Homo sapiens: one gene and its partners. The protein of the gene in region 6 interacts with the protein of the main gene of each other region in a biochemical or structural test. Each region holds a gene or a part of one and is shown on either strand. Other genes may lie near its edges. The genes, in order: TRIM63, TRIM39, RNF38, MIB1, HLTF, UBE2N and RNF168.

Region 1 (4,374 bases), on a different chromosome or scaffold from region 6:
AAGCACGTGCTGGGGACAGTTCTGAGCGTCATTGCCAATGTCTAACACAGTGCTTCACATACAGTAGGCACCTCAGATTGTTGTGGAATGAATGAAGGAACGAAGGAATGGAGGTAGATGAATTTCTTACCTTCTTCCTTCCCTTCTGTGGACTCTTCCTCTTCCTGATCTTCTTCTTCAATGAATTCTTCCTCTTCCTCATCTGTGACAAAAAAACATTTGTGTTAGGATGGGGCCGGTTCCTTGAGGAGCTACTTGAAGAGGAACCAGGCAAGAGAGAGCACGGTCTAAACCCCTTCCTGTGCCCAGTCGGGTCAAACGGCCACACAGCGGCGGCAGTGGTCTGGGAGGGGATGGGCTTGCCAGACCCACGCTGCACAGAGGCCCTGCTCCTGCAATCCCCCGCACTCCGTCCCAGGGAGCTGGGCTCAAGTCACTTCCTTGCTCCAGCAACAGCAGCTTCTATCACCTGCTCGCCTGTGACCAGAGAGGGGACTCTGAGGAAGCGCACTCTGTGCTTCTGCACATCTCTCGGGTAGGCAGATAAACATTGCCTGAGGAGGAAAAACCTCCTCGATCCTCAGGGATCAGAGTCCTTGTCTTGAAGGAAGCTACTTAGCCTATGAGATCTGCTTGTTCAGCAGCCACTGTCCCATTTTCCTCATTCCTTAGCCTGTGGAGGGGAGGGGTGGACATGATGGGGAAGCACTTCTGGAGCCACCTCTGCTCCCTGAAGCTGAGCACCAGAGGGACAGTGACTGAGCTGCAACTCATGTCCCCACTTTTTTATCCTGAGATGTCACCGTCAAGCTTTAACAGGGAACATCTCCCTTCCCCGCTCCTCTCCCAAGCTACCTCCTTAACCTTTTGGGGCCCTGAAGGGGTCACCACAGAATCAGAACATTTGTCAAGAGTATCTTCAGGCCAGGCTTGGTCGCTCACACCTGTAATCCCAGCACTTTGGGAGGCTGAGGCGGTCAGATCACCTGAGGTCAGGAGTTCAAGACCTGCCTGGCCAACATGGTAAAACCCTGTCTCTACTAAAAATACAAAAAATTAGCTGGGTGTGGTGGCATGCACCTGTAATCCCAGCTACTTGGGAGGCTGAGGCAGGAGAATCTCTTGAACCCAGGAGGCAAACGTTGCAGTGAGCTGAGATCACACCATTGCACTCCAACCTGGGCGACAAGAGCAAAACTCCGTCTCAAAAAAAAAAAAAAAAAATAGTATCTCCAAAATGACAACCAAAATTCCAGCCAAGTAACTGATATCAGAGTATAACCCAGGGAGTTCTGTTGTTTAATCATTGTCACAATGACTACATTTAATAGCAGTTGCTGAGTACTTACTATGTGCCAAGTAGTGTGCTCAGTGTTGAATCTGCATCGTCTTATAAAATCCTCACAAGAGTTTTGCAAGCCAAATGGCCCTCAGTAGAATCTGCACAGGCTACTTGCCAGCTGTGTGGCCTTGAACAAGTGGCTTACCCTCTCTGAGCTTTAAGTTCCCTCAACTACAAAATAGAGATGGTAACAGAACCTATCCCATGAAGTTGTGTTAAATGATAAAACTTATGTTAAGGGCTTAGCGCCTAGGACATACAGAATATTCAGTAACTGGTGACTGTTGGTACTCTCCTCATTTTACTTGTGGAGAAACTGAGGCTCAGGGAGATTAGGAAGGCCAGTGCAGGACTTCACAATGTTATGTTCACACCGTATGACCCACTCTTGAATATCTATTTCTTTCTTTTTTTTTTTTTTTTGAGATGGAGTTTCACTCCTGTTGCCCAGGCTGGAGTGCAATGGCGTGATCACAGCTCACTGCAACCTCCTCCTCCCGGATTCAAGCAATTCTGCTGCTTCAGCCTCCCGAGTTAGCTGGGATTACAGGCATGCACCACCATGCCCAGCTAATTTTGTATTTTTAGTAGAGACGGGGTTTCTCCGTGTTGGTCAGGCTGGTCTGGAACTCCTGACCTCAGGTGATCCACCTGCCTTGGACCCCCAAAGTGCTGAGATTACAGACGTGAGTCACTGTGCCTGGCTGACCCACTCTTGAATATCTTAGCTTAGGGAAGCTGACAGTGGAGCAGCTCACTACAGCAGTGGATGTCCCCAAGGCCATTGGTGTCTCTGCTTTGGGATGTATTTTGTCCTTACCTATGAATGGGGTATATCTGGGGCTCTGAAAACAGACTTAGCACCAGCTACTGAAGGTTTGTAGGAGAGCGACACAGGAGGTGCCAAGAAGCTCTTCTCTTTCTCACGCCAGCCATTTACAGTTCTTCCTTGTTCCTTCATCATCCCCTTGTCCCCCAACCTCAGCTGGTCATTGGAGCACCACCTCTCAGACCAACGCAACAGTCAGCAATGTGGGATCTGCCCTCTCTTTCTCTGTTGCCTTTTAGCTGTGTTTCCCTTTTAGCTGTGTGACCTTTAGCAAATTAACATATTTGCTTCCATTCAGTTTCTTCATTTCCTTTGTTATTTTCACCCTTATTATTGTTACGGTTGCATTGTTACAATTATTATAGGCACTCTATGGAAGAGTAATTATAAACAGAAATGAGGACATGATGTTGATCAATTAAGGTGCCTGGGTATCATAGGTGATAGCATTAAGAAACTGAAGCTAAGACTACCTTTAGGCAATAACTAGTACATCTTTAGGGCTCTACAGGACCTTTCTGCATTGATATCTGATTTTTTGCAACAGCACCATGAGTTGGTCATTATTAGAGGGCTCACTTCTAACCTGACTTTTTAAATTAGAAAATAAAACTCAGGCAGAAGGGGGCTTGCCAAAGGTCACACAGATAAACAAATGACAGAACCAGGATTTAAACTCAGGACTGTCTGATTCCAGAGGGCATATTATTTCTACTGCCCCAAGAGGCCTCCCTGCCATGGATCCATATGTAATTTATGAAGCAGGAATTCTGCACCAGGCACTGTGCTAGGCTCTGGGCTCATCTAGAAATCGACTATATGAATTTTTTTTTTTTTTTTTTTGAGATGGAGTTTGGCTGGCTCTTTTGCCCAGGCTGGAGTGCAGTGGCACAATCTCGGCTCACTGCAACCTCTACCTCCTGGATTCAAGTGATTCTCCTGCCTCAGCTTCCCAAGTAGCTGGAATTACAGGCACATGCCATCACGCCTGGCTAATTTTTGTATTTTTAGTAGAGATGAGGTTTCACCACGTTGGTCAGGCTGGTCTCAAACTCCTGACCTCAAGTGATCCGCCCACCTTGGCCTCCCAAAGTGCTGGGATTACAGGCATGAGCCACCACAGCCGGCCAGAAGTTGGCTATATGAGTTTGATTGATATTTGGGGATCTTTATTAGTGTATCTGCCTCCCCATCGGGCTCAGTTGGAGGGATGCTGGTTTCCAGGGGTCAGGCAGGCAAATAGACAAGTGGCATCACCACCTCCTTTACCTGTCCCAAAGTCAATGGCTCTCAGGGCGTCTGCTATGTGCTCTAAATCCAAAGTAAAGAAGTCCATGTTCTCAAAGCCCTGCTCTGTCTTCCCCAGCTGGCAGCCCTTGGAAGCTTCCACAATGCTGCAGGGGAGACAGAAAGAGAGGCAGGATGAGGTCTCTGGGGCTCAGTGCAGGGAAGAGAGGGCACATGCTTTGCCACGCCCAGGCCTTCTACCCAGAGGCTCCCCTGGAGGGATGGAGTATTTCCTCTCCAACCTCAAGCACAAGGAGTGGTCCAAAAAGTCAGGGATGCAAAGGGTCAGGGAAGCCAGCCTAGAGTGAGACCCTCCCAGCAGGCCTAATGCCCAGGATGAGGCTTCCTGGACAGAGGTCCTGGTGGGAACTAGGTGCTTGGATCATAGCCTCTAGGAAGACACTGACCTTTTGATGAGTTGCTTGGCAGTCTGCAGGGGGAGAGAGAACAAAGGATTAGGACCGCAGAAGAGGTAACCGCAGGAAATCAGCAAAACTAGTGAACTAGGTGTTGTAGGTAGATATTTGGTGCCATTCCCTAGCCCAGTTGTGACCTGCTCCCCACCCCAAACTGAGCAGAATCTGGAACTTTTCCCTCTGTCTGTGGTCTGTACAGGTCTTGGTCATCACCCTAGGACCCACTGTCTTGACAGGAAGCTTGGATTCTAGGGGTATCAATCCCAAAACTCCTAAACCCTGAACTCCCCAATCCTAACCACCTTTTCATACCTAATGTCTAGCAAAAAGCCTGGCCCACAGTAGAAGCCTAGAACATTTTTATTGAACTGAACTATGAAGTCTTATAACTGAGCCTTTTCTGTCCTCCCCAACAAGCTCTTTGAGGGCAGGGCTGTGTCTGGTTTATCTCCTTGTCTTCCACCTCAGTGCCTGGCCTACAGTAGGGGCTCAATTAATAG
Region 2 (4,459 bases), on a different chromosome or scaffold from region 6:
CAGATGTGAGCCACCGCACCCGGCCTTTGAAGGTTATGCAAGTTTACATGGTAAATTATATAACCACTCTACCCGATGACTTTGGCAAATTATTTAACCTTTCTGGGTCTCTATTTAGAAAAGAATGGACCTAAGAGTAGATAACGCTTAAGGCTTCCTCTCACTCCAAGTTCTGTGACTCAGGGTGAGACTAAAAGCCAGATAAAGGGGTAGGTGTGTGTGGGAGTAAGAAAAGTGAGACATAGGATAACTGAAACCCATATAAGGTAGGACCTAAAAACTTTCTTCTCTCTAGTGGTTTCTTCTAGTTTCCTTTTGGGAACAACTCACCAATTAGCTGTTTAAGGATTTTCCTTAGGGCAAAGTACTGTCGGGGAAAATTGCTGAAGTTCTTTTCCAGCTCTATGGATACTGAAGTCACCTCCATGGTCTTCACCTTTTCACATCTAGGAGGGATAGGGAGATAGGGGAAGAAAGGGCAGGGTTAGGGAGAAGCTCCAGCCAAGTGACTATTCAGATGTTAACATTTTTAGGGAGAAATTAAAATTCTCCATCTTCCCACTTTCTTCCTCCTCCCTGAAAAGCTCACCTGTTGATTTCTTTTACTAATCCAAGGAGAGCCTTATGATCCCGTGGACAGATCGTTGAGAGTGAGCCTCCGAACTTTCTAGGAATATTCCTGTATTTCATGCAAATGGATGATTGCCCTCCCTGCTCTCCCAACCCCTTCCTCCTGCCATCTTGTTTGGACACAATTCCACCCACTGGCACAAGTAGAATCTGATTCTACCTTATCATTCTCCTTCTCAAGAAGTCCTGATGTTCAAAGGGGAAAAGGGATTATTATTCCCAATAATTTGTTCTCTAACTGGCTTCATGGGCACAATGAACATTCTCCCATACCCTGCCCAGACACACTACATGACTTTCCCAACCTCACCCCCAACCCAAACTCCTGACTGTACCCCTCCTCTCTAAGCCAAGACCTAACTCACTCAGAGAGATACAACAATCACTTACTTTTCCAGGGTACTTTTGACATCCTAGAAGGAAGGAGAAAAGAAAGCAATATTGGTCCTGGTATTCAGTGGTCCTGAAGGCAAAAGGTTCCCCCTCCTCCCCAAAGTTCCACAGCTATAAAATAGGGATAGGATAAACTGAGGGTCACACAGTGCAAGAAGAGCTCCAGCGGGACCTGAATGCACTTCTCCCAACCTAATCCCTACTTTCAACTTCTGGTCATCATGAAGCTTGGTCATTTATATCACTTCCCAATGATTTCTTTTATGCTTGTCTTTGCTCCTCAAGGATGCTGGGAGCTCCCTATAAGGGACAGGGATTGTATCAATTCTTTACTCTGTCCCCCAAGTACCAACCACATATCTCACTCTCCTTGAGGATAAGTACAGAGAGTTCCAGACTGGTGGCATAGGAACAAATCACACATTCCTGTTACGGTTTGGTATCCCCTGTCTTGCATTAGTTAATAAACATCAATAACTGGCTGGGCACAGTAGCTCACGCCTGTAATCTGAGCGCTTTGGGAGGCCAAGACGGGTGGATCACTTGAGGTCAGGAGTTCAAGACCAGCCTAGCCAACATGGTGAAACCCTGTCTTTACTAAAAATACAAAAATTAGCCAGGTGTGGTGGTGTGCGCCTGTAACCCCAGCTACTCAGGAGGCTGAGGCAGGAGAATCGCTTGAACACAGGAGGCAAAGGTTGCAGTGAGCCGAGATCATGCACTGCACTCCAGCCTGGGCGACAGAGCAAGACTCTCTCAGAAAAAAAAAAAAGGAAGAATAAACACATTAATAACTGTGTGCTAATACTGATTTGTGAATACTTGGGGTCCAGAAGACAAAGAAGACAAATCTCTGTCCCACAAGGATTTCCCAGTTTAATATGGAAGGCAGAACACACATACATGAAAGGCCATAGGAACAAATACCAAGCAATACGTAACATAAAAATAAATGTACAATGAAGCCTCACTGCTTCAAATGCTGGTAATCTAATCTCTAAGATAAAAAATATGTTCCCTAGTTTTGCTAACACCATTCATTTACGTAAGAGAACAAAATATTTCAAACACTTTAGAGGTATTATTAATATATACATATCAAAAGCAATATATTATTTAAACAATTTCAGGCATACCTCATTTTATTGCACCTCGCTTTATTGTGTTTTGTTGACATTGTATGTTTTTCAGATAGATGGTTTGTGGCAACCTGTGTTGAGCAAGTCTACTGGCACCATGTTTTCCAACAGCATGTGTTCACTTCATGTCTCTGTGTCACATTTTGGTAATTCTCACAATATTTCACACTTTTTCATTATTATATCTAGTATGATCTGTGATCAGTGATCTTTGATGTTACTATTGTAATCGTTATGGGGGCACTGTGAACTGCATCCATATAAGACGAACAACTTAATCGATAAATATATTTTATGTGTTCTAACTGATCCACTACCAGCTATTCCCTCATCTTTCTCCATCTCCTCTGGCCTCCCTATTCCGAGACACAACGATATTAAAATTATATCAATTAATAATCCTGCAATGGCCTCTAAGTGTTCATGTGAAAGAAGAATCACATGTCTCTCACTTTAAATCAAAACCTAAAAATGTTTAAGCTTAGTGAGAAAGGCACATTGAAAGCCAAGATGGGCTGAAAGCTAGGCCTCTTGTGCCAAACACCAAGCCAGGCTGTGAATGCTAAGGAAAAGTTATTGAAGAAAATTAAAAGTGCTACTCCAGTGAACACATGAATGATAAGAAAGTGAAACAGCTTTATTGCTGAGATGGAGAAAATTTTAGTGATCTGGATATAAGATCACATGATTCCCTTAAGCCAAAGCCCAATCCAGAGCAAGGCTGTTAACTCCTTCAGTTCTATGAAAGCTGAGAGAGGTAAGGAAGCTGCAGAAGAAAAGTTTAAAGTTAGGTAGGTTGTTTTAAGAAAAGAAGCCATCTCTGTAACAAAAATGTGCAAGGAGAAGCAGCAAGTGCTGATGCAGAAGTTGCAGCAAGTTATCCAGAAGATCTTGCCAAGATTACTGATGAAGGTGGCTACACTAAACAACACATTTTCAATGTCAACAAACAGCCTTCTATTGAAGAAGGTGCTATCCAGGGCTTTCACAGTTCGAGAGAAGTCAATGCCTGGCTTTAAAGCTTCAAAGGACAGGATGACTTTCTTATTAGAAGCAAGGGCAGCTGGTGACTTTAAGTTGAAACCAGTGCTCACTTACCATTTCAAAAATCCTAGGGCTCTTAAGAATTATGCTAAATCTACTTTCCTTGTGCTCTAGAAATGGAATAACAAAGCCTACATGACAGTACACCTGTATACAGCATGGTATACTGAATGTTTTTAATTAAAAAAAATTACCTTTTGTAGAGATGGGGTCCTGCTATATTGCCCAGACTGGTCTTGAATTCCTGGCCTTAAGCAGTCCTCCTGGCTTGATCTCTCAGAGTGCTGGGATTACAGATGTGAGCCAACGTGCCTAGCCTTTACTGAAGTTTTTTTTGGGGGGATGGAGTTTCACTCTTGTCACCCAGGCAGGAGTGCAACTGCATGATCTTGGCTCACTGCAACCTCTGCCTCTCGGGTTCAAGCGATTCTCCTCCCTCAGCCTCCCGAGTAGCTGGGATTACAGGCGCCCACCACCATGCCCAGCTAATTTTTTTGTATTTTTAGTAGAGATTGGGCTTCACCATGTTGGCCAGGCTGGTCTCAAACTCCTGACCTCAGGTGATCCACCTGCCTTGGCCTCCCAAAGTGATAGGATTACAGGTGTAAGCCACCGTGCCCAACCCTTTACTGAAAATTTTAAGTTGAGACCTACTGCTCAGAAAAAAAGATTCCTTTCAAAATATTACTGCTCACTGACAATGCACTTGATCACCCAAAAGTTCTGATAGAGATGTAAAATGAGATTCATGTTGTTTTCACGTCCGCTAACACAACATCCAATCGGCAGCCCATGGATCAAGAAGTAATTTGGACTTTCAAGTCTTAATAAATGTATTTCATAAAGCTGCTATAAATAGTGATTTTTCTGATAGATCTAGGCAAAGTAAATTGAAGGCTTTCTGGTAAGGATTCACCATTCTAGATGCCATTAAGAACATTTGTGATTTGTGAAAGGAAGCCAAAATATCAATATTAACAGGCATTTAGAAGAAGTCTATTCCAACCCTTATGGATGACTTTTAGGGGTTCAAGACTCCCATGTTGTAAGTAACTGCAAATGTGGGTTTTCAAAGATTTTCAAAGAAGTTCTACTGGTGAGTAAAATGCTATTAAACAGCATCACATGCTCAGAGATATCTTTCATAAAAGGAAGAGTTGAAAGTAAACTTCGTCGTTGTCTTATTTTAAGAAATTACCACAGTCACCCCAATCTTCAGCAACCACCACCTCGATCAGTCAATACTAACACAA
Region 3 (4,459 bases), on a different chromosome or scaffold from region 6:
AATCCATTTACACACCTTACTTTCGAGTTTTCATTTTATATTTAAAAAAAAATTTTTAACTCACGTTTACCCACAGGTAAAAGAAGACAAGTAACCATGTTTTCTCTCAGAAATGTATGTTACTATCGAACTCTGGGTGCCAAGCAAGTAACTAGTGAACATCTTACATGCTTTCATTTTTCCTTTCCTACACAACTTCATATATTCTACACTATCTTCTACTTTCCTACAGAACTTGACCTATTAGGACAAGTGATTTAAGACCAAAAGATCAAAACACAAGAATATTAAGTAGTCAAATAATTAACAGTAGCTGAGTAGCTCAAGAAGACAAACATTAGTCAGAAAAGCTGGCTGAAAAAATATTAAAGTCCTCTAAGAAGAATACTTATTTCCACATACAACAGAAAACAAGGAGACGATATTGGGCATTTTGTTTCAAGCCTTCCTAGAAACACTGTAGAATGTGACTTTCAGCCCTATGTAGGGAAAGGGTAAATATATAAGAACCTGGAAGAAAGCTTTGAAGTGAGCATCCTCTTGAACGGTAGTGTTCTGATCACTTGGGAGGAGAGGGAACAGGCTCTGAAGTCTCACCCTTTCACAAATCACCTTGTTAGGATGGCCAGGTAGAGATGCTGAATTGGCCCCGGGAGATATCTGGGAAAAAGAGGAAGAAAAGGATAGTTCATGGCTAGCTGCACCAATGTGGAGAATCACGCCTATGAAGGATAGTCTGGATTTTCTAGGTATTTGATGATTCTGCTAGCGAAGACAGGAAAGAAATTAAAAATTAATTTTAAACATCAAAACATAAAGATGGCAAAGGTTGCCTCTGGCAATGGATCTCTCTTACAAAAACTGTTGGAGGCAAAACAGCACAGCCCAAGAACACCACGTCCTTCCTGTTTCCCAAATACCTATTGGTAACTTTTTCTGCTGGTGTTAATTCCGAAATCCTAAAGGACAGACTTCATGCTAAGAAAACCCAAGGTAAAATTACATATCTTAAGTACAGAAAGGTTAAGTGTTTGCCTGGACCAAGATTAATACTTTTTCTCATTCTGTTTTTTAGTTAACCTTCCAAATAATCATGCAAAGGAAAATGACAGATTTAACAATATTTGTGGCAAATTTTCTATAGCAAACATATGTTTGACTGCAGAAATCTCAGCTCTATTCAACACAAACCTAAAGACCTTCCTAAGGAATAAAGGACACAATCATAAGCACAAAAGTAAATGACTGCCACATTTCCAATGCTTGATTTGGCCAATGCAGTGGTCACACCTGTAATCCCAGCACTTTGGTATGCCAAGGTGGGAGGATCGCCCCAGTTATCTACAAAAATTAAAAAACAAAAATAAATGTTTGACTTGATTATGGGTTAATCCTCTTAAATTCATATGTAAATATACTTACTCTGTAACATTAAAAAAAAAATCATGAACATAATGTGTTCCACTGTGCTGTGACAGTGAATTCTTCTTGGGGGGTTAAGGCTCGTGGTCCCTTCTTGTACCTACACTAAAAGTTACATACTTTAACATGGTCTTCTTTTTAGAGTTTCATTGCCTCATTCATTCACTCAATCCTACATTTAAGCATCTATTTGGTGACAGGCATTAAACCAAAAACAAAGGCATCGTTTCCTACTTTTTTTTTTTTTTTTTTTTGAGATGGAGTCTCGCTGTCGCCCAGGCTGGAGTGCAGTGGTGCCATCTCGGCTCACTGCAGGCTCCACCCACTGGGGTTCACGCCATTCTCCTGCCTCAGCCTGCAGAGTAGCTGGGACTACAGGCGCCCGCCACCCCGCCTGGCTAATTTTTTGTATTTTTAGTAGAGACGGGGTTTCACTGTGTTAGCCAGGATGGTCTCGATCTCCTGACCTCGTGATCCGTCCGCCTCGGCCTCCCGAAGTGCTGGGATTACAGGCGTGAGCCACTGCGCCCGGCCCGTTTCCTACTTTCAAAAAGTATATGCTATAAGAAAGAAACAAAAGTAAATCACTGCAGGATGTAAGTATTATGGTAACGCTAGGCACTAGGTGCTATGGAGAAGTAGCTGCCAAGAGACAGCAGTGTAGTCAGGAAACTGCAAAACGTTTAGTATGGCTAGATAGTAAGGAAGCAGCCAGAAACCGATCATAAAATGAAATGCTATTAATATCCCTGCTGTTAATATATTAATACCCTTACCTTCCTTAGCCTTTTTATAGTATTTTGTTTCTGCTTTGCTATGGACCTGGTAAACAGATAACTGTGCCCACTGGTAAGAGTAAAAATACTTCCAAAGACTCACCTAGAAGTAAAAAACAAAGCACTTGAAAGCAGAAACTTTAGAATTCATTAGTTTTCTGTACAGAATGTTCTGATCTCTATACTACAAACATGAATGTGCTATCCTTTACCATTACGCAGAAGTATGCATTGCTGAATCAAGGCGTATTTACTGACTGACTCCTACAAGCCAAGAATTACATTAGGAATATAGAGACAGGCCAAATGCAGTGGCTCACACTTGTAATCTCAACCCTTTGGGAGGCCCTGGTGAGAGAAGAGCTTGAGTACAGGAGCTCAAGACTAGCCTGGACAACATAGAGAAAACCCCATCTCTACTCAAAAAAATAAGTAAATAAATAAAAATTAAAAAAATTAAATTAGTGTGGCATGGTGGCACACTCCTGTAGTCTTAGCTACTCAGGAGGCTAAGGCAGGAGCTTCACTCGAGCCCAGTAGTTTGAGGTTACAGTGAGCTATGACTGCAATACTATACTCCAGCCTGGTCAACATGGTGAGACAATTTCTAAAAATAAGTATTTGTTAATCTAATAAGATATAAAAACATGGGCCCTAACCTCAAGAAGCTTATTCTAACAATTTTTGAAACCCAGATGCAAGCAGCCAACTGTAACATAATATTTAAAGGCCATAAAACAGGGAAAAATTAGGAGTAAGAGTTCTGAATTAATGTGAAGGTAAGAGTTAAGATTTCATAGAAAAAGGAGTATTTCACATTCCTGACTCAATCTAAGGAGGGCTTTTGCCACTCTCTCAAAATGGTTTGCTTCTTTATGTAGGAATCTTTTTGCATCCTCTTAAGCTTTTCATTTGCTCATTATGTATCCTTTGTAGCGTGTTATCCTAAGGCCATCCTGCCTTCAACTATCATGCCCAAAGCAGTCTTACAAAATTGCTAGTACAAGTAGCTGGCTGGGAAAAGACAAATCAAGGTTATGTTTCTTCTCCTTCATTCCTTGTTCCTTTGAAATCTTAAGATCTTGGTCATAGACAAATGAAAAACTGGCCAACCTGGTCCCTGTGGCCATAATTTTCAAGCATATCCTCTCCTACTCACAACAGTTTCCTTTGATCAGAGGCTCCATTTGTCTTAAAAAGGATGGACCAATATAATGGAGAAAAGCTATATTCAAAATAAGTCTGGGACAAAACCATAGATGGGCTTGATTAAAATGAGGTACAATTTTTACTACTAGGTAAAATAAAATCACACACACACATTGTGTGTGTGTGTGTGTGTGTGTGTGTGTGTGTGTGTGTGTGTGTGGGGCAGGCAGTCCCATACATAGGTTGCCCAAGATTACCTCTGGTGTCCATCTCCTGTACAACCCCCTTCCCCATGTGCGCAGGCAGGGCTGTGAATGTGATGTATTTCATTCCCATTATTAGGTTAAATCATATGACAAAGGAGGAAAGACGTTCAGATGTAATGAAGATTCCAAGTAAGGTGAATTCAAGCTAAAGACAGATTATCCTGGGTGAGCCTGGGCATGACTTAATCAGAGAAAGCAGAACTGAGTCCTTCCCAAGAGATTCTCTTGCCAATTCTTCAGACTAAGATGTTGTGAGAAGGCATGCGAAAGGTACCATGTGGCAGGGGCTTGAGGGCAGCTTCTAGGAGCTGAAAGCAGTCACCAGTTGACGACCAGCAAGAAATGGGGGACCTCAGTCCTATAATCACAAGAACCACATTCTACCAGTGAACTTGGAAGGAGACACGGATGAAATCACAGCTCTGGGCCGGGTACAGTGGCTCACGCCTGTAATCCCAGCACTTTGGGAGGCCGAGGCGGGCAGATCACAAGGTCAAGAGATAGAGACCAACCTGGCCAACATGATGAAACCCCATCTCTACTAAAAATACAAAAATTAGCTGGGCGTGGTGGCGCACACCTGTAGTCCCAGCTACTTGGGAGGCTGAGGCAGGAGAATCACTTGAATCCGGGAGGTGGAGGTTGCAGTGAGCCAAGATCGTGCCACTGCACTCCAGCCTGGCGACAGAGCAAGACTGTCTCAAAAAAAAAAAGAAAAGAAAGAAATCACAGCTCCTGCAAGGTAAGACCCTGGGGGCCCAGCAGCTAACCCCATACCAGGACTCCTGATTCATGGAAATTGTAAGGAAATATTTGTGTTTTAAACAAATAAATTTGTAGTAATTT
Region 4 (4,459 bases), on a different chromosome or scaffold from region 6:
TTGCATTACTTTTAAAAGCTTAGCTCTTACTAAGCATTCTTTAACAAAAGCTAATAAGCAAGAAATCATTTGCCATACGGAAACTATATTCACAAACAAGACTTTAATCCAATATTGAAAGCTAAAGAATTAGAAAAAATACAAAACACTGCTATGAGTCAATTGAACTGCTATCATTGAATTTGCTGCATTTAGAATGACATAAACATACTGAACATAAAAACAATTTTATGGATTTATTCTATAAGACTAGCATTAAGAATGACATACAATTTGTGATTTCCTTTAAAAATAATTTTTTACAACAGAATCCATTTGAACAAAGGGTCTTTTTTTTTTCCCCTCATTTGAGGGGAAGACAATCTATGTTTCCCAAACAGATCCTCCTTTCATACTAAAATAGCAAACTGTGGCCTCGATCTCCTCTTCCCAGATGCTACTTATAGATGACTTTGCATAATAACTTAATTAGAATTACTTTTCTGGTAACAGTGTCACGGCCATAAATAATCAGTTTTTAAAAAACAAACATCAAGTGCAAATCTAGAAAACTTCCTTTAAAGAATTACCCAAACCCAGCACACATGCAGAATCATTATTAACAAGCTAAGCAATATGACTTTAAAACGTGTATATAATGATACACGTGCACTAAAGACCATCTTTTATAAAGTTTTAATAGTGTTGCCAAGTTAATAATTCTTTCAAGGCACTGGAGAATTACACAGATGGAGTTTCCAAAATATAACTGACAATTGCTTGAACTGTTAAAAAGCCCTGAGTCAGAACTTTCAATAACTTCCTGAAATTATAGATTGCAGACAAAATGGCACGTTTATTTTACTTTAAAAATTACAGGACCATTTTGCTTTTTGGAGGAAATAAGCTGGGTTTATGAAACAAATCATGCAGACTATACAGGAAAAGTAAAATATTCAGCATATGACCTTTCTTAGACATTTTGTACATGTCGATCACAACTTGTAGTTACAGATTTAGGCACCAAATTAATGTGACAAGTCACTTCTCCTGTACCTACTGCTTAAATTCTCAATGAAACAAAAATGTCAATTTTAACCTCAGGTTCCCATTTCCTCTTTACTCACAAATAAGAATAAATGCTGGAAAAAGTAATACTCTGACAGAAAAGGAGGTAGAAAATGCCAATGTAGCAATTTACAATTTTAATTCATCGGCTCTACTGTCTAGTTTACGTTTTTATACCAGAGTTTCACATACTACTAACCAGTAAATTGAGGCTCAATCTAAAGGATATTCCCCCTCACTGTAGTAAAGCAATGTACACGAGACAGCATTAAAGTTTCCTCAAATTTAATGTTTTAAAGAAGTACAACTATCATTATTAATACTGCTATAGTTATATATATGTTAAATTTCCTAGGCTATATATGACTATCAAGTAATATCAGTAAGCATTCCTATCATAATATTCAAGCAAATGAAGTAACGTTGCCTTTTTGAGGGAAAACATATTTTGAAACTTTTACAAGCAGACATAAAGACAGTTGACACTTCCAACAAGGCACACATAATTTATGAAAATCTATTATGTTCCCAATTGTACAAACTCAAAGCTAATCTAATTCTGATATTTAAAATGTGCCTCTCCCCTCTGGCTCAAAATGAAATAACAAACCCTTCCAATGAATAGACATTTAAAACCTACTCAATTTAATTGCTAACAATTCAGAGGAGAGGTGCACTGTCCCTCCCAAAAATTTTAAGAACTTAATGTTTACCATGACCTTAGATCTTGCAAACACAAACAACTAAAGAATTTAGGTGTTTCTTGATTTATATGGAGTCAAAATTCTATTCCACTGAGGAGAAAACAAAAAGGGGAGTTGTTTAATGGGTATGGAGTTTCAGTTTTGCAAGATGAAAAAGTTCTGGAGATCTGCTTCACAACAGTGTAAATGTACTTCACATGGCTGAACTGTATTCTTTAGAAACAGTTAATATGGTAAATTTTATGTTATGAGTTTTTCATCACAAAAAATACAAAAAACTATTCAAAAATTCAATTTTTTACACAAATTATTACTATAAAACATGGTAGACATTCTGATAGGATAAGTGCTTTTCCTTTTGGATTAAAAAAAGCAACCTGTATTAAAGCCTATAATTTGATGACATCTGTATGATCCTCTTTTTTTCTCTACACTCAAATGCTGACTTTCCTTTCCTATCTGTTGTAACCCCACTGTCCTGATCCTACTCTACCCCATCTCTAATTCTCTTAGTTCATGAATTTAACTAATTCTTAGTCCAAAAAGGGTCCAGAATTCAGAGTGGACAAACAGCAATTGGGCAACACATAGACAGTATGTTTCTACTATGTAAAAATGACCCAGCAAGTTTTGATATTTGAACCAGACACATCTTAAGCAGCATGCATTTCAATATGCTAAAATGCTCTTACAGGCTAACACCATAAAAATATAAATTTTAGAAATGTATTTCCAACATTAATTATCAATTAATTTTATGCTTCCATAGCTAGCTGGTCAATTTGCAATGTTTAAAGTTACAAATATCTTATGCATAATTTGACCAACTAAACATTTGTCTAATATATTCCTACACTAATACAAAATTATCTTTTCTTGAAAACCTTCTTGCTCCCAACAAAATTAAATATGTATATAGTATAAGCAGTAAGAACGTTAAATTACGTGAACAAATACCATTAGAACAGCACCATCTGGTATGTTGTATGTGTATGTTTTGAGTAACAACGCTAACAATCTTAGAAGAATAAAGGAGAAAATGGTAGGGTGAGGGATACAGAGAGGAAATCCAAACACTACTCAATGACAACTCTTCTGAAACGTTAGGAAATGTTATCAGGACCTTTGGATCTCTTCCTTTTAACTACAGATTCCTTAAAATACACAACTGCTGCACAATAAATTCTGAGTGTGCTAAGATGCCATTTTTCCACTGTTGTGTATCTAATCCCTAAAGCCCAATAAATACTTTTTTGAATGAATGCGTGTCAGTTTTTTTCTTTTTTATAAATGTTTCTAAGAAAAGTAAAAGCTCTTTTGAGGCACAAGATAAAGAGGTTTAGCTAATGAGCAGGGTAACGAACCTAACTGGAAAAGTACTGCTAAGGGACATATAATAAGAGGTAGCAGATTCAGAGAGTTGGAGGAAAGTCACTGAAATGATGAAGTTCTTAATCTTATTATCTCTCACAAACCCAAAATAAATTTAAAATAATTCTAAGTGATTGAAAACATGAATAAAGAAGTATTTTCTATTCATGGAACAAATTTCAAGGTGATACAAATACAGAAAACCCACAAGTACTAGCACTAAAATTATAATGACATTATTTCTATAATAAAAATTTATGTCATATTCTTATAAAGGAAATAATTAAACTAGTCTGGAAGATGCTATTACCTTTTAGGGATCTGTTTTAGCACTGCAGCTCAGAAAACAGAAAGGATTTGTTTAAGGAAAGTAGAGCTGGAGACCACACAATTCTCTGATTGGCCAAACTCTGCATGAGTCAGCCAGGTGCTCCCTCCTCACCAGGTGATCTAGTGGGAAGAGATGGGTAGCCCATGGCATGGAAGGAAAGGAAAAACCTGACATGCTGTTTTCATGTCTGCAACATGATAGTCTGTCTGTCTCTTTATGTGAACATCATCAGTCAGATGTTCTACCTTTTTATAACTTCAAAATAGTTTTAAAAACAGCGTCGGTGGCCCCTTATTAGATAACTGAGTGTACATGAATTTTCAAATTTGAAATCTATAAAAATTTTACTGTTCTAAATGATAGCAGTTACTCAGCTAAACACAGACATGGAATTGTTGAGACTACAAAACCAGCCAGCAAAGCTCCCCATTGCTTTCACCAGGACTTGCAAAGGCAGCAAGGATTAAACAGCCAGAAACAGTGTAAGAGGGCTAGAGACTTCATACTTTCAAATTTAGTTGGTGTTCTATAAAAACTGAAGTAAGAAAAGCTAGCCAGATTTAAAGGAGGGAAAAAAACTACAAAAGAGGATAACTATTTTTAGGAAAAAGCTTATCAACAGCATATAGTAGACACTATGTAAACACCTGATATAATCTAGCAGCAATGAATCCCCAAACATTTATGTGTATATTTACTCAGGAGACAATAAGATTACAAAGGAGATAAAAGGAGAAAAAAAATGATTAAATGCTCCAAAAATTTTGTTTGTTTTTAAAGTCTACAGGTAAGCAGACATTTCTATACATGTCCTGGTCACTCTTTCTAAAGTATTTATAATTAGGTTATTGACCATGTCTTGGATATTGTTGGCAGTTTAAATAATACCCTCATCCGTAGGTATACACAGAAAGACTGTTTTCTTTATAACAAAAAATACTATAAAGAAAGAGATAATGGAAATAAGGCCTATAATGAAGACAGAATCACTAACACTGTCAGAATT
Region 5 (4,459 bases), on a different chromosome or scaffold from region 6:
CAATTCCAGCCTTCCACTTATGCAGGTAAAAAGGCTTGAAGTTATCTTTGATTCCTCTTTCACATGCCATAACATATCAACCAGCAAGTTCTGTTGGTTCTACGTTCACAATTTAACAGAATCTAATCATTTCTCACTCCCTTTATCACTACTATGGTAAAAACCACCATCATCTCTTGCTTTGACTGCCACTGGTCTCCCTACTTCTGACCTTATTCCTATTCAAATAACCTAAATCTGAGCACAGCAGCCAGAGTGATCTTTTAAAAATATAAATCAGATTACGTCCCTCTCCTGGCTCAAAACCCTTTAAGGTTTCCTGTCATAAAAAGTAAAAGCCAAAGTCCTTGACATATGCGTTACATACCCCCATTCCAATAAATCTCTGATATCATGACTATTTTCTCTCGTTCATACTATCCAGCCACACTTGCTTCTCTGTTATTCTTCAAGCTCACCAGGCATGTTCCCAACTGGGAGCATCTACACTTGCTCTTCCTTCTGGCTGAAACACCCCTTAATCCCAATCTCCTTTAGATCTTTACCTATATATCATCTTCTCAGTGAGGTCTTCCTTAATACCCTACTAAAACAGCTTTGGCATTCCCCATCCCCTTTCGTTGCTTTATTCCTTAAAACTTAATCATGTTTTTAAATTATCTGTTTCTTCCCATTAAAATATAAATTCCTCGAGTGCAGGCATTTTTGTCTGTTTTATTCTGCTGTATCCCAATGGGTATAAGTGCCTGGCACACAGTGGGCACTTAATAAATTTTTGTTGAAAGAATATGAAAAGAAAGAAGATTTTGAACTCAGAAATCTGCTGCTTAGAACAATCTTTCCCACTCTCTCTAATTCCTATCAAACCTGCTTTGTACCTACCTCACTGAAGTTTTTATGTTTTGAAGATTCCCCTTTCACAGTCCTATTCTGCTTTCACTTGTCTCTTATTCATTCTGTTCCCTGTGGGCTCACATTAAACCTGATCTTGCTTGGACCAGAATTTCATACCTTCTACCAATCCTTAATCTTCTTGTTAAACCTATTTCATCAGTTCCTATTTCCAGATTTCCATACGATTTTGGAAATAGAAGCAAGCAAAATCTTCTGGCTAGCAATTGAGAACTTGTCATTTAAAGTAAGCTTTAAATTATTTCCTAACTTAAAAAATTACTTACCTGGTGAATTATACTATTATTTCATTCACTTTATTGATTTGTAAAAAACACTGTAATTCATAGAAGCAAATTATCTTTCAGTATACTTCAAACTATTGCTAACACATCTAAATAATGTCATTCAGTGAATGGGAAACAAAGTAAACAAAAACTAATTTTTAACATGGTTTTCTTTCTCCATACCTTCCAATAGTGGCTCTGCCTTCATTTTTCACAGACTGATAAATCTTTCTCTCTTCATCTGAAAGTGTAATGTGCTGAATAAATACTTTACGTTCTGGTAACTCCAAAACAGGTTTTCCTTTAATTTTGCTTGTCTTTGTTCTTCTAAGTGTAATATTTTTAATTAGGGACTGTAAACGCCTAATCAGAATAAAACAAATAATTATGTAACTTTTAATTTCTACATAAATTGATCCAAGAAGAACGAAACAGAACATTTTAATTTGTTACTGTTTTATAGCTTCTGTAAAAGTGTTTTTAAAATCCCTTATTTGGGATTTTAACCAATCTGATAATCACAGAAGTATTCTACAAAAATAAAATTATTAAAACAAATGTATGGAAATTTCCCCTCAATACCTAACATAGTTTAATCTTTTTATATCCTGTCCTTATTTTCGTAAGTTCTGTTCCCCATTTTTGTTCCAATCACTAACTCTTTTACTTCTCAACTGTCCTGTCAACTCCATCACCGAATAGTCAACACTCAAATTCTAAGTATCTATTAAGTGCCAGGCACTGAATTAAATGTTGTAAGAATACAAATATGGGTAAGATACTACATTCTGTAATATTAAAATCAAAAGTATATAAATAAGTAATTGTATAAAGTAATGAGTGCCCCCAAAATAAAAAGATAATATGGTAATTCAGAACACAGAAAAATGCTTTACAGGTTCCACAATCTTTACATTTCTTTCTCAGTACTGGAAAAAAAGAGATGTATCAATTCTTGTTTTTTCCCAACATTGAAATATAAATACAATTTCCTGGAGTTTAAATAGTTGGTTTTGAGGAATCAAGTGGATAGTACTGCCAACTAGGTTAGTGGCTCTTGAAGCTTTCTCACTATAACTCACAGTAAGAAACACATTCTATCCAGCAAAAATATACAAACACATACAAAAGAAACAAATATTTCACAAAATAATACTTACTATGTATCATGCACTCCGATATTTACTAATCTCTTCTCTATTTCATTGTCTTTTTAAATGCTGGCTACCACCTTTATAATGATTTTATATCCCACTAATAGCTCTCAAATCTTCAGTCTATAAACCGGTGCTTTAGCCAAAAAGTTGAACCACATTACATCTTGCAAAATGGCTATCACTGAGTTTTAATTTATGTTCTCAACTTTTATCTATCTCCACCAGAAACAACCACATAAAACTTTCCTATACAACTTTTGCTAAGGTCATGGTACCTCACATCATTCACTATATAAAGCTATGTAAGGCCAGGTGTGGTAGCTCATGCCTGTAATCCCAGCACTTTGGGAGGTCGAGGCAAGAGGATAACCTGAGGTCAGAAGTTTGAGACTAGCCTGGCCAACATGGCGAAACCCCATCTCTACTAAAAATACAAAAATTAGCGGGGCATGCTGGCGCAGACCTGTAATCTCAGCTACTTGGGAGGCTGAGACAGGAGAATCGCTTGAACCCAGGAGGCGGAGGTTGCAGTGAGCCAAGATCGCGCCACTGCCCTCCAGCATGGACGACAGAGCAAGACTCCATCTCAAATAAATAAATACATAAATAAATAAATAAAGCTATATAAGATATGAAAACTTAATGCATATTAGATCCTCAAAGGATATACGATGTTTCCTGCTAAATCTGTTAATGCTGGTTTTGGGGCTTTGGGGCTTAGCAACACACAAAAAACAGTTATGTCTTTCCTTTCAGTTTAGCCACAACAGGGGAAGGGTAGTTATCGACAATTAGAAATCTTTGTCTTTCCAAACAAGCATCACTAGGTTCTGAAAGACAAAGGTACTGAGCCATAAACACTTTTTAGAAGGAAAAGTTAAGAGTCAAGTTAAAATAGTAAAGAAAGTGCCAACTGGTTCAAGCTACTAACAGTTATTTGTAACTAATATTAATCACTGTCTGAAAGTACTTACCTAAGTCCTCCTTCATCTCCCATTGTGACAGGACGCTGTATTGTTCTATGCCACCATTCTCTATCAATAAATGGTTTAAGTTTTAAAAAGGAAAGAAGAGACCACAAGTCCTTTAAAGAATTCTGGATTGGAGTACCTAGAAATAACAGGAAACTGTTATAACTCTTTAACCAGAGTATCCAGTAAGAGTATCTATTTGGCCCAATCAGAGAAGACAACAATTGAAAATGGGCACTCTGTACCAGGCTCATCATTATCAATTAAATTAAACTATCAAGTGTTGACTATAATCATTTATTAAAAATATACACATCTCAAGATACAGTTTTGCTCTAATTTTTAGCTCTCACATGACACACTAGCCAAGAAAAAGACTGGAAAATTCAACTTTCTCCTTATCAAGTACATCTGCTTATTTAGTTTTTAAAGCAGCAGCACTAGCAGAAGGAAAAAGCAACTAGTTTAAGTTTACATTCTTTTCCTTACCTTCTAGTAAAGGTACTGTGAATGGCAAACAGGTTTGAGGATGGGAAACAGAAATCAAGATTATGACTGGATGACTAGAGTGTCTACTCCATTTCCACTAGAGTGTCTACTCCATTTCCAAGGTTCAAGAATAAGTCTAGTGACTGTTCCATAAATTATCAATAAGTCAAATGTTGTTATATCACGGGCAATTATGAAGAACAACTCAAAACATTTGATTAAATTATTTATATGATTAATTTTGGGGCAGAATTTACACCCACTTTAAGTTTACAAAGTTACTTTACTAACTTACATAATGATATATTTTAGAGATTTAAGGTTTTAGTAAGTTTAATGCTATGATTACCTGTCAAAACCCATCTTCTTTCTGATTCTAAGTCAAGTACAGCTTTTGTCTGCTGAGCATTTGGATTTCGTATGGCATGTCCTTCATCCAGGATCACTCTTAGCCACCTTATGCTATGTAATGGACTATCTCCTTTAGTCTGAAATAAATGTTTTATATGAATTAAAAAACACAGGAAAGTAAAATAGTACTTAATATGATTTGCTAACTAGTTGTTATCATTATTTAATATCAAATTTACTATGTGCTAGGTACTGCTTTAAGCACTACATTAATTATTGAATACTCACAAGTTTATAAAATAAGTACTTATTA
Region 6 (4,459 bases):
TTTGCAGAGATGGGGTCTTGCTATGTTGCCCAGGCTGGTGGTAACATTTTTTAAATGCTCACTTATTGGGCCAAGTGTGGTGGCTCACGTCTGTCATCCCATTGCTTTGGGAGGCCAGGGCGGGAAGATTGCTTGAGGCAGGAGACCAGCCTGGGCAACATAGAGAAACCCATCTCTACAAAAAAAGTGATAAATAAAAATGCCCACTTATATATATAGAGGGTGAACTTGCAGATTCTCATAAGTAACTTACAGTTGTGTACATAATGAAGAATTGACTTGCTTTATTAGTGATCCCAAAAAAGGAGCCCGTTTGTTTTATCTTACAAATTTTTCATAATTTTTTTCTTTATTTAAATTTTTTTTCTATAACACACAACTTTGTCCAGAACCCTGTTTGTTAATATTTTAGAATCGCTTAAAGATGTAGTGACAGGTTGGAGTTTACAGAGTAGGTATCATTGAAGCATCACTCAGTTTTTTAACACTTATTTTTCAGTAATGAAATTGGCAGTTACTGAGTTATCAGACAGCTCTTGTTTGAGATGAGCTAAAAGATCTACAGTTGATATTACTGGTCATATATTGCAATTTTGTGTTTCAGAGAATATTCTAAAAAACCTAATCACTGTAGACAGGATGCACTGGGATATAGATAGTTACTAACTGGACCAACTTTTCTCACACACAAATTAGCACTTTTTCTAAGAATACTGTTTATTACCCCAAAATTTTACTGTACATACTCCAATCATTGCCTTGCAGAAGAGCATCTAAGACCTGTCATTGCTTCGTACTGAGCACAAATTATTTTTCAACTTAAAAATAAGAGTCCTGGTTAATAGAGATAGGTTGACAGAATGTCAGTTGTTATAATTGACTAACTACAGTATAGTTTACAGTAGTGTGAGTCTAGGGTTTGCTCTTCAAGACCCAGTAGATCTGTTGATAATTAGATCAATTTGATGTGATATTTGATTCCTTTTAAAAATATTTGTAGCATTAACTATTGTATGCGTTCTATAAGATGAGATACCTTCCTTTAGACTTAATTTTGTGGACATTTAAATCCATACCCTATTCCTTTACCAACTTACCTGTCTATTTTAGTAACTAACTTCCTGAACATAGTCTACATTAACTAATTTCCTGAACATAGTCTACAGTGCTTTCTATTATGCATGGCCCTAAACTCACTTCTGTTTGGGATTCAATCCTTGGACTGCTTTTAAACATAATAGAATCACAAAATTCATTTAAGGGTTATTCTGTTTTTCTGTAAACAACTATGGCCTTCCTATGTGATCTCATTTGTCAACTTTTTTTTTTTTTTTTTTTTGGTAGTGATGGGGTCTCACTATGCTTGCCCAGCTTGGTCTGGAACTCCTAGCCTCAAGTGATTCCCCTGCCTGCCTCAGCCTCCCAAAGTGCAGGGATTACAGGTGTGAACCATGGCATCCCACCTGCAATGTAAATTATTTGTGCCAAAAGATAGATAAGGCCGGGCGTGGTGCCTCACGCTTACAATCCCAGCACTTTGGGAGGCTGAGGCGGGCAGATCACTTTAAGTCAGGAGTTCGAGACCTGCCTGGCTAACATGGTGAAACCCTGTCTCTGCTAAAAATACAAAAATTAGCCAGGTGCTCACTTGGACCCAGGAGGCAGAGGTTGCAGTGAGCCAAGATCGTGCCACTGCACTGCAGCCTGGGCAAGAGAGCGAGACTTGTCTCAAAAAAAAAAAAAAAGATAGATAAGTGAAACAGTAGGAATTTTAGCCCTTTACTTCTTCACTTAAAGAAATCATACTGTACTCTGTCTTTCCACCAAAGAATAGTGTAAAACCAGAAGGTATTTTAGTTAGTCATGTGTTGAATAGTGGCCGGAAAGATTTTATTTCCTAGCCAGTTTTTGCCTTTTTAGGAAAAAAGTTGACATCAGTTTCTGTGGTTGAGACTTTTTCAGATGCTGCCATTTCAGACTTGTTTCATTTAGTTTGGATTTTATTCCTTTTTTCCCCTCCCACAGTTTATGCTGTGGGTTTGTTAGGGAAACCAACAGTTTAGTGAAATAATTATGCATGTTTTTGTGTCAGTCCATTAGAACTTGAGAGCAGCATATATTATAAGGACTATTTCAAAATGTTTTCTACACACGAAAGCTTATTTTAGAATGTGTTCCAATTAAATCTAGGCTTGATCAGGTCACATGATGTGCTTAATATGTACATTCTTTACAAAGAATATCTGATTTTGAGGGTGAACTGAAGATGAGAAAGTAAATGCCATACCTATCTCTGCCACTGTGTATTGAGAGTGATTTTGAAGCTATTTTGGGATACGCTTTTGGAGGCCTTTCTGTAGCTTTTTATAGTAGATACAGAGCTGCTACTACTTTGTGTAACTGGTGAGTGGTGGATTGGGACTCTTGGGCCCTGGCTTTCTTTTTTTTCCAGTCACCCAATTTATGGCTTTCTAAAAACATGAAGACCTGGGGTAAAATTAAAGGATGGAGGTGAGGAGAGCCCAGAATTCAAGGAATTTTACCATCCAGTTATTTTCTCATTTTTCTACTCCTGCTATTCATCCCTAATATCTTAACTTTTTTCCTAAAAAATGAAGACCAGCCTCTTTTGTTCTGGTCACATGTTAAAGGACTTCCCAAGGTCAGAGGCTTCATTATTGCCTCTTGAGCTTTTTAATACTCTAAAAATGTTTTAGTTTGAACCTAAAGAACATGTCAGTTTCTCACTTGCTCTTACATCGCCATGATCAAAACAAAAAACTAGTCTTAAAATACCAGAGACATTACCTAAAATGGCCATGGGTTTAATTAACACATTTTGGGGAAGCATTTGATTTGTATTTACATCTTATGACTATTTCAGTATATTACTGTGCTGAGAGAGAAGTTATTTGTTGTTGTTGTTTTTAACGTATGCCCTGTAGCTTGTGGAATGAAACAGTTTATGATGTATTTTTTTTTAGGTGAAGGCAGTGTAAATAAAATGTTCTCATTTATTGTTTTTCATACCTAAAAGCTTATTTAAATATGAACATTTTTCTGGTTAAAAATAAATATAAGTAGAAGTTAGACTATTTTTCCCCATACCTGAGTGGCTCCTTTTGTTTTCCTTCCATAATGTGCACATCCTGCCTTGAAAATAACCCTGCCTTAATGATGTTAACGATGAAATTCTGATCGTTTATTTCCCTCTTTTCATAACATCAAATAGATTCAGAATTCAGTAAATATTAATTGAATATCTATTGTGCCAGGCAGTGTTCCAAATGCTGAGGATATAGCAGTCCATAAAATAGACTCAAATCCATCCTCTCATGGAGCTTAAATTCTGAACAAAATAAGTAGAAATGAGATTTGTTAGTAGTGCTGTGGAGATAAAGCCAGGGAGTGGGGATAGGGAGTGTGCAGGGTAGGGTTGAATGGGGTTTGCAATTTCAGTTATGATGGCTTCACTGAGAAAACATGAAGATCTTAGGAGCTGAGGGAGCAAGCCATATGGATATCTTGGGGAGGAAGAGGAAGTACAAAGCCCTTGAGGTGAGCGGATGCCTGGCACGTTGAAGAACTACAAGGAAGCTAATTTTTGTCTGGAACAGAGAAGGTTAGGGGATGGAGAGAGAACAGCTGAAGATAAGTCAGAGAGGTAGGTGGAGTGAGGGCATCATATAGAGCGTCTTTTGGGGGCCCATTACAAGGACTATGACTTTTTTTTTTTTTTTTTTTTTTTGAGACGGAGCTTCGCTCTTTTGCCTAGGCTGGAGAGCAATGGCATGATCGGGGCTCACCGCAACCTCCACCTCCGGGGTTCAAGCGATTCTCCTGCCTCAGCCTCCCAAGTAGCTGGGATTACAGGCATGCGCCACCATGCCTAGCTAATTTTATATTTTTAGTAGAGGTGGGATTTCTCCATGTTGATCAGGCTGGTCTCGAACTCCTGACCTGAGCCGATCCACCCGCCTCGGCCTCCCAAAATGCTGGGATTACAGGTGTGAGCCACCATGCCCAGACTTTTTTTGAGATGGAGTCTCGCCCTGTCACCCAGGCTGGAGTGCAATGGCACGATCTCAGCTCACTGCAACCTCCGCCTCCTGGCTTCAAATGATTCTCCTGCCTCAGCCTCCCGAGTAGCTGGGATTACAGGCACGTGCCACCATGCCCGGCTGATTTTGTATTTTTAGTAGAGATGGGATTTCTCCATGTTGATCAGGCTGGTCTCGAACTCCTGACCTGAGGTGATCCACCCGCCTCGGCCTCCCAAAGTGCTGGGATTACAGGCGTGAGCCACCGCACCCGGCTCAGGACTATGACTTTTAAAGGGTCTGTGGATAATAGACCTGCGAGGGAGGTAGTGAGGTCAGAAGCAGGAAGAACAGGTTAGGAGGCTGTTGTAGTATGCCAGGTCAGAGCTGATGGTTGCTTGGATCAGAGGTGTAGCAGT
Region 7 (4,459 bases), on a different chromosome or scaffold from region 6:
CTCAGTACTTGAGAGTTCAAGGCAGGCAAATCGCTTGAGCCTGAGAGTGTGAGACCAGCCTGGCCAATAGGGCAAAACCGTCTACAAAAAATACAAAAATTAGCCGGGTGTGGTGGTGGGCGCCTGTAGTCTCAGCTACATGGGAGGCTCAGGCAGTAGCATTGCTTGAGCCTGGGAGGTGGACACTGCAGTGAGCTGAGATTGCACCACTGCACTGCAGCCTGAGTGACAAAGTGAGACTCTGTCTCAAAAAAAAAAAAAAATAAATTTAAAAAAAGAAAGAAATAGCAAATGGAAGGCTGGGCACGGTGGCTCACACCTGTAATCCTGGCACTTTGGAAGGCAGGTGGATCACCTGAGGTCAGGAGTTCAAGACCAGCCTGGCCAACATGGTAAAACCCCCGTCTCTACTAAAATTACAAAAAATTAGCTGGGCGTGGTGGGACATGCCTGTAATCCCAGCTACTCAGGAGGCTGAGGCAGGAGAATTGCTTGAACCCGGGAGGTGGAGGCTGCAGTTACCTGAGATTGCGCCATTGTACTCCAGCCTGGGCAACAAGAGCGAAACTCCGTCAAAGAAGAAAAAGAAATAGCAAATGGACTGGATGCAGTGGCTCACACCTGTTATCCCAGTGCTTCAGGAGGCTAGGGCAGGAGAATCGCTTCAGCCAAGGGGTTGGAGGCTGCAGTGAGCTATGATCCCGCCACTGAACTCCAGCCTGGGCAAGAGTGAGATCTTGTTTCCAAAAACAAAAGAAAAAGGCAAATGAAGACAATTTTAACTTGTGTCTGCAGTTGAATAACTCACTGATCTTAATTTAGATTCAGTTTATGTAGAAATAAGTAAACTTTAAAAATCTGTCATTCCACGGTTTAACAAAAGTTCAGCTCTCTGCTTGCTGTAGTTGGGCATCTTCTGTAAATCGCACGTGCCTTTCCTTTGCCTGTTGTGGTTTTTAATTGATCTGTGGAAGTTCTAGTTATATTCTGGACACTAATTCTCTGGTGATTTATGTATTTGCAAATAACTTCTAGTTTGTTTTTAACTTTGTGATGTCTTTCATCACATGGAAGTTTTAATTGTTTTGGAATTTATCTCATATGTTCTTCTTAGTCGTTTATAGTTTTGTTTTTTTCCATTTTTTAATCCACCTTGAATTCGAGTATTGTATGAGGTAGGCATCTTAACTCCCCCTGCCCTTGATTGCCACTTAATAGCCACACTACTTGGTAGTAATACAGCCACATTGATATACGTACTATTTCACTAATCATATGCTTATTTTCCAGAGCAATTTGGGGCTATTTATTTATTTTATTTATTTATTTATTTATTTATTTGAGATGGAGTCTCTCTCTGTCACCCAGGCTGGAGTGCAATGGTGCGATCTTGGCTCACTGCAACCTCTGCCTCTCGGGTTCAAGCGATTCTCCTGTCTCAGCCTCTTGAGTAGCTGGGATTACAGGCGTGCACCACCACACGTGGCTAATTTTTGTATTTTTAGTAGACATAGGGTTATTTGCCTTGTTGGCCAGGCTGGTTTTGAACTCCTGACCTCAAGTGATCCGCCTGCCTCCACCTCCCAAAGTGCCGGGATTACAGGCATGAGCCATGGCACCTTGCCTGGGCTTTTTATTTTTTAACTATCTCTTTATCAGTAGCTGTGTCAGTACCACACATGCTTAGTTTAATTCTGCTTAATGATATGTTTTGCTTTCTAGTATAATACATCTGTCTTATTATTGTTTTCCTAAATTAGCTACTTAAAAAAAATTTTTTTGAACAAAGATGGGGTCTTGCTATGTTGCCCAGGCTGGTCTTGATAGCCTGAGCTCAAGTGGTCCTCCTGCCTCAGCCTTCCAAAGTGCTGGGATTACAGGCATGAGCCACTGTGCCCAGCCTCTTAGCTACTATTTTATTGTATCTAATGTGTAAAGTGATTTACTTTTTTTCCAGTTTTATTGTAAAAGATACATAACATAAAATCCGCCATGTTAACCATTTTTAAATGGACAGTTGCGTGACATGAAGTACATTCATGTTTTTGTGCAGCCGTCACCACCATTCATCTCTGAACTTTCTCATCTTCCACGCTTGAAACTGCCCATTAAACAATAATTAATTCCCCATTCACCCCTCCCCTGGCTGCTGGCGACCTCCATTCTTTCTGCCTCTACGGGTTTAATTGCTCTAGGTGTCTCGTACGAGTGGAACCCCACACAGTGTCTGTCCTTTGGTGACTGGCTGTTTCACGCAGCGTAGTGTCTTGAAGGTCCATCGTGTTCTAGCACGTGTCCATTCCATTTCCTTTTTTGGCCGCATACTCCATTATGTGTGTGTATATATCTTAATGGATGACTATTATAAAAAAAAAACCAAGTGTTGGCTGTCCTCTGAAGCGGTATCTCCGTACTCAGGATTTGCACTTCCCTAATGACTAGTAATGTTGAACATGTGTTTTTGTTTGTTTGTGAGACGGAGCCTCCCTCTGTCGCCCAGGCTGGAGTGCAGTGGCGTGATCTCGGCTCACTGCAAGCTCCGCCTCCCGGGTTCAAGCAATTCTTCTGTGTCAGCCTCTCGAGTAGTTGGAATTACAGGTGCCTGCCACCACTCCCGGCTTTTTGTATTTTTTGGTAGAGACGGGTTTCACCGTGTTGGTCAGGCTGGTCTCAAACTCTTGACCTCAAGTGATCCACCTGCCTCGGCCTCCCAAAATGCTGTGATTACAGGCATGAGCCACTGTGCCCGGCCTACTGTCAGTTGTTTTATTTGGGTTTTTTGTTTGTTTCTTTGTTTGTTTGTTTTGAGACGGAATCTCCCTCTGTCGTCCAGGCTGGAGTGTAGTGGTGCAATGTCGGCTCACTGCAGCCTCCGCCTCCCGGGTTCAAGCTATTCTACTGCCTCAGCCTCCCGAGTAGCTGAGACTACAGGTGCGTGCCACCACGCCTGGCTAATTTTTGTATTCTTAGTATAGACGGGGTTTCACCATATTGGCCAGGCTGGTCTCGAACTCCTGACCTCATGATCCGCCTGCCTCAGCCTCCCAAAGTGCTGGGATTACAGGCGTGAGCCACCGCTCCCAGCTTACTTTAATTTTTTAAATGAAAATAGTTTGACTCTGCAGTTTCCCTGAAAAAAAGTCTCAGATACCTCCAGGGTTTCGTAGATTCTACTTTAAGACTTGCTGATCTAGGTCTCAGTTTAAGCCAGCTGATTATCCTTCTACTTTTTAAGGAGCCTTATATATGTCTCTCCTGTGTATACCATTGTATTGTCTTGAATAGATCCTCCTTAGTGACTAAAATAAATGAGAATTCAGCATACTGCATCCCTAATTGTTTTGGAGTTACATCACTGTTTTTTAGTCTCTCTGTTGCAGATTTTTCAAACTGCTGGCCTGCAGGCCATAGGAATCCTGTGTGCATGTTTTTTGTGACCCATCCAATGCCACTATTTAAGTTGGAAGATTTCATATTAACATCTTGATTGCTGGATTTTCTTTTTTTTTTTCTTTTTACTTGGATAAATTTATGGGGTGCAAGGGTAATTTTGTTACATGTATAGATTGCACAGTGGCGAAGTCAGGGCTCTTTAGGGTATCTGCTACCCAAATAATGTACATTGTACCCATGAAGTCATCTCTCACCATCCACCCCTGCCGCCTCTGGATTTTCTTGAGAAAGCAAAAAATATGGCACGGACAGGCCTGAGTTTCCTGGTAGTCGTAGTCAGCTGGAGTTGAGTAGCAGCTGCCCCTTGAAACAGACAGATGCGTTCTCTTTTTTGGATGTTCCCTTTTTACACTTTATAAAACAGTGTCTTGTTTTATAGAATAAAATTCTCATCAGATTTGTTGAGGATACATACCCACATTTAGGTTATTTTCTGACCCAGAATTATCTTTCAACTCCAGGGTGATGATTTTTTCTCTTTGTATAGCTTACTGTTTCCCTAGTCCTGCAGATGTATTTCAAATGTCTGACGATCCTTGGATTAGCTTTTAGGTTTGAGAATGAGGCCCAGGAGAAAAGCTCTGTGTATGTGGAAGGGTATTGGTGATGGGCAGACGTTGAGTTCAAGCCGATGGAAACCTGGCCTTTGTGCTTTGCCATCCCTAACTGCCCGATCGCAGAGGACTTTGCTCTGGGTCACCACCTATTACATTAGCTGCTCTGGCTCTCTCTAGATCTGTTTCTTTAAAGAAATATGCGTGTGTGCACCTGCACCCATATCCAGGGAGAAATGCCGGTAAGTCGAGGATTCTGATTTAACAGCTTATAAATCTCGAGTTCTGTTTTCAGTCCCACGGTTACTCACTCTGGACTCTATGAGCCTCTCTCTAGGCAAATAGGAGGCAGATTCCCTTCTAATTCTACCTCAGCTGTAGTCTTCCCTTTCAAGGATTTCTTTTCCTTCATTTCTGCTGTATCAATTATCTCTATTTCATTGCCTTCCCAT

What was found.
Region 1: the proteins of UBE2N (region 6) and TRIM63 form a complex in vitro, tested with the Homo sapiens proteins (2 studies listed by BioGRID).
Region 2: the proteins of UBE2N (region 6) and TRIM39 form a complex in vitro, tested with the Homo sapiens proteins (one study listed by BioGRID).
Region 3: the proteins of UBE2N (region 6) and RNF38 are reported together in a solved structure, tested with the Homo sapiens proteins (one study listed by BioGRID).
Region 4: the proteins of UBE2N (region 6) and MIB1 form a complex in vitro, tested with the Homo sapiens proteins (one study listed by BioGRID).
Region 5: the proteins of UBE2N (region 6) and HLTF form a complex in vitro, tested with the Homo sapiens proteins (2 studies listed by BioGRID, with this or other methods).
Region 7: the proteins of UBE2N (region 6) and RNF168 form a complex in vitro, tested with the Homo sapiens proteins (2 studies listed by BioGRID).

Annotation. Positions count from the first base shown.
Region 1 is NC_000001.11:26,053,763-26,058,136, forward strand, and holds part of TRIM63 (E3 ubiquitin-protein ligase TRIM63), read right to left. Parts: intron 3,889-4,374; coding exon 3,866-3,888; intron 3,566-3,865; coding exon 3,441-3,565; intron 203-3,440; coding exon 131-202; intron 1-130. UniProt on the Homo sapiens protein: E3 ubiquitin ligase. Mediates the ubiquitination and subsequent proteasomal degradation of CKM, GMEB1 and HIBADH.
Region 2 is NC_000006.12:30,336,492-30,340,950, reverse strand, and holds part of TRIM39 (E3 ubiquitin-protein ligase TRIM39), read right to left. Parts: intron 1,044-4,459; coding exon 1,021-1,043; intron 680-1,020; coding exon of another isoform or gene 590-679; intron 447-589; coding exon 331-446; intron 1-330. Other genes in the region: TRIM39-RPP21 protein, read right to left, coding at 331-446, 1,021-1,043.
Region 3 is NC_000009.12:36,389,957-36,394,415, forward strand, and holds part of RNF38 (E3 ubiquitin-protein ligase RNF38), read right to left. Parts: intron 3,659-4,459; exon of another isoform or gene 3,605-3,658; intron 2,214-3,604; exon of another isoform or gene 2,199-2,213; intron 661-2,198; coding exon 511-660; intron 1-510. UniProt on the Homo sapiens protein: Acts as an E3 ubiquitin-protein ligase able to ubiquitinate p53/TP53 which promotes its relocalization to discrete foci associated with PML nuclear bodies. Exhibits preference for UBE2D2 as a E2 enzyme.
Region 4 is NC_000018.10:21,865,676-21,870,134, reverse strand, and holds part of MIB1 (E3 ubiquitin-protein ligase MIB1), read right to left. Parts: 3' UTR 1-4,459. UniProt on the Homo sapiens protein: E3 ubiquitin-protein ligase that mediates ubiquitination of Delta receptors, which act as ligands of Notch proteins.
Region 5 is NC_000003.12:149,044,719-149,049,177, forward strand, and holds part of HLTF (helicase-like transcription factor), read right to left. Parts: intron 4,284-4,459; coding exon 4,145-4,283; intron 3,446-4,144; coding exon 3,310-3,445; intron 1,542-3,309; coding exon 1,362-1,541; intron 1-1,361. UniProt on the Homo sapiens protein: Has both helicase and E3 ubiquitin ligase activities. Possesses intrinsic ATP-dependent nucleosome-remodeling activity; This activity may be required for transcriptional activation or repression of specific target promoters.
Region 6 is NC_000012.12:93,413,738-93,418,196, reverse strand, and holds part of UBE2N (ubiquitin-conjugating enzyme E2 N), read left to right. Parts: intron 1-4,459. UniProt on the Homo sapiens protein: The UBE2V1-UBE2N and UBE2V2-UBE2N heterodimers catalyze the synthesis of non-canonical 'Lys-63'-linked polyubiquitin chains. This type of polyubiquitination does not lead to protein degradation by the proteasome.
Region 7 is NC_000003.12:196,489,660-196,494,118, reverse strand, and holds part of RNF168 (E3 ubiquitin-protein ligase RNF168), read left to right. Parts: intron 1-4,459. UniProt on the Homo sapiens protein: E3 ubiquitin-protein ligase required for accumulation of repair proteins to sites of DNA damage. Acts with UBE2N/UBC13 to amplify the RNF8-dependent histone ubiquitination.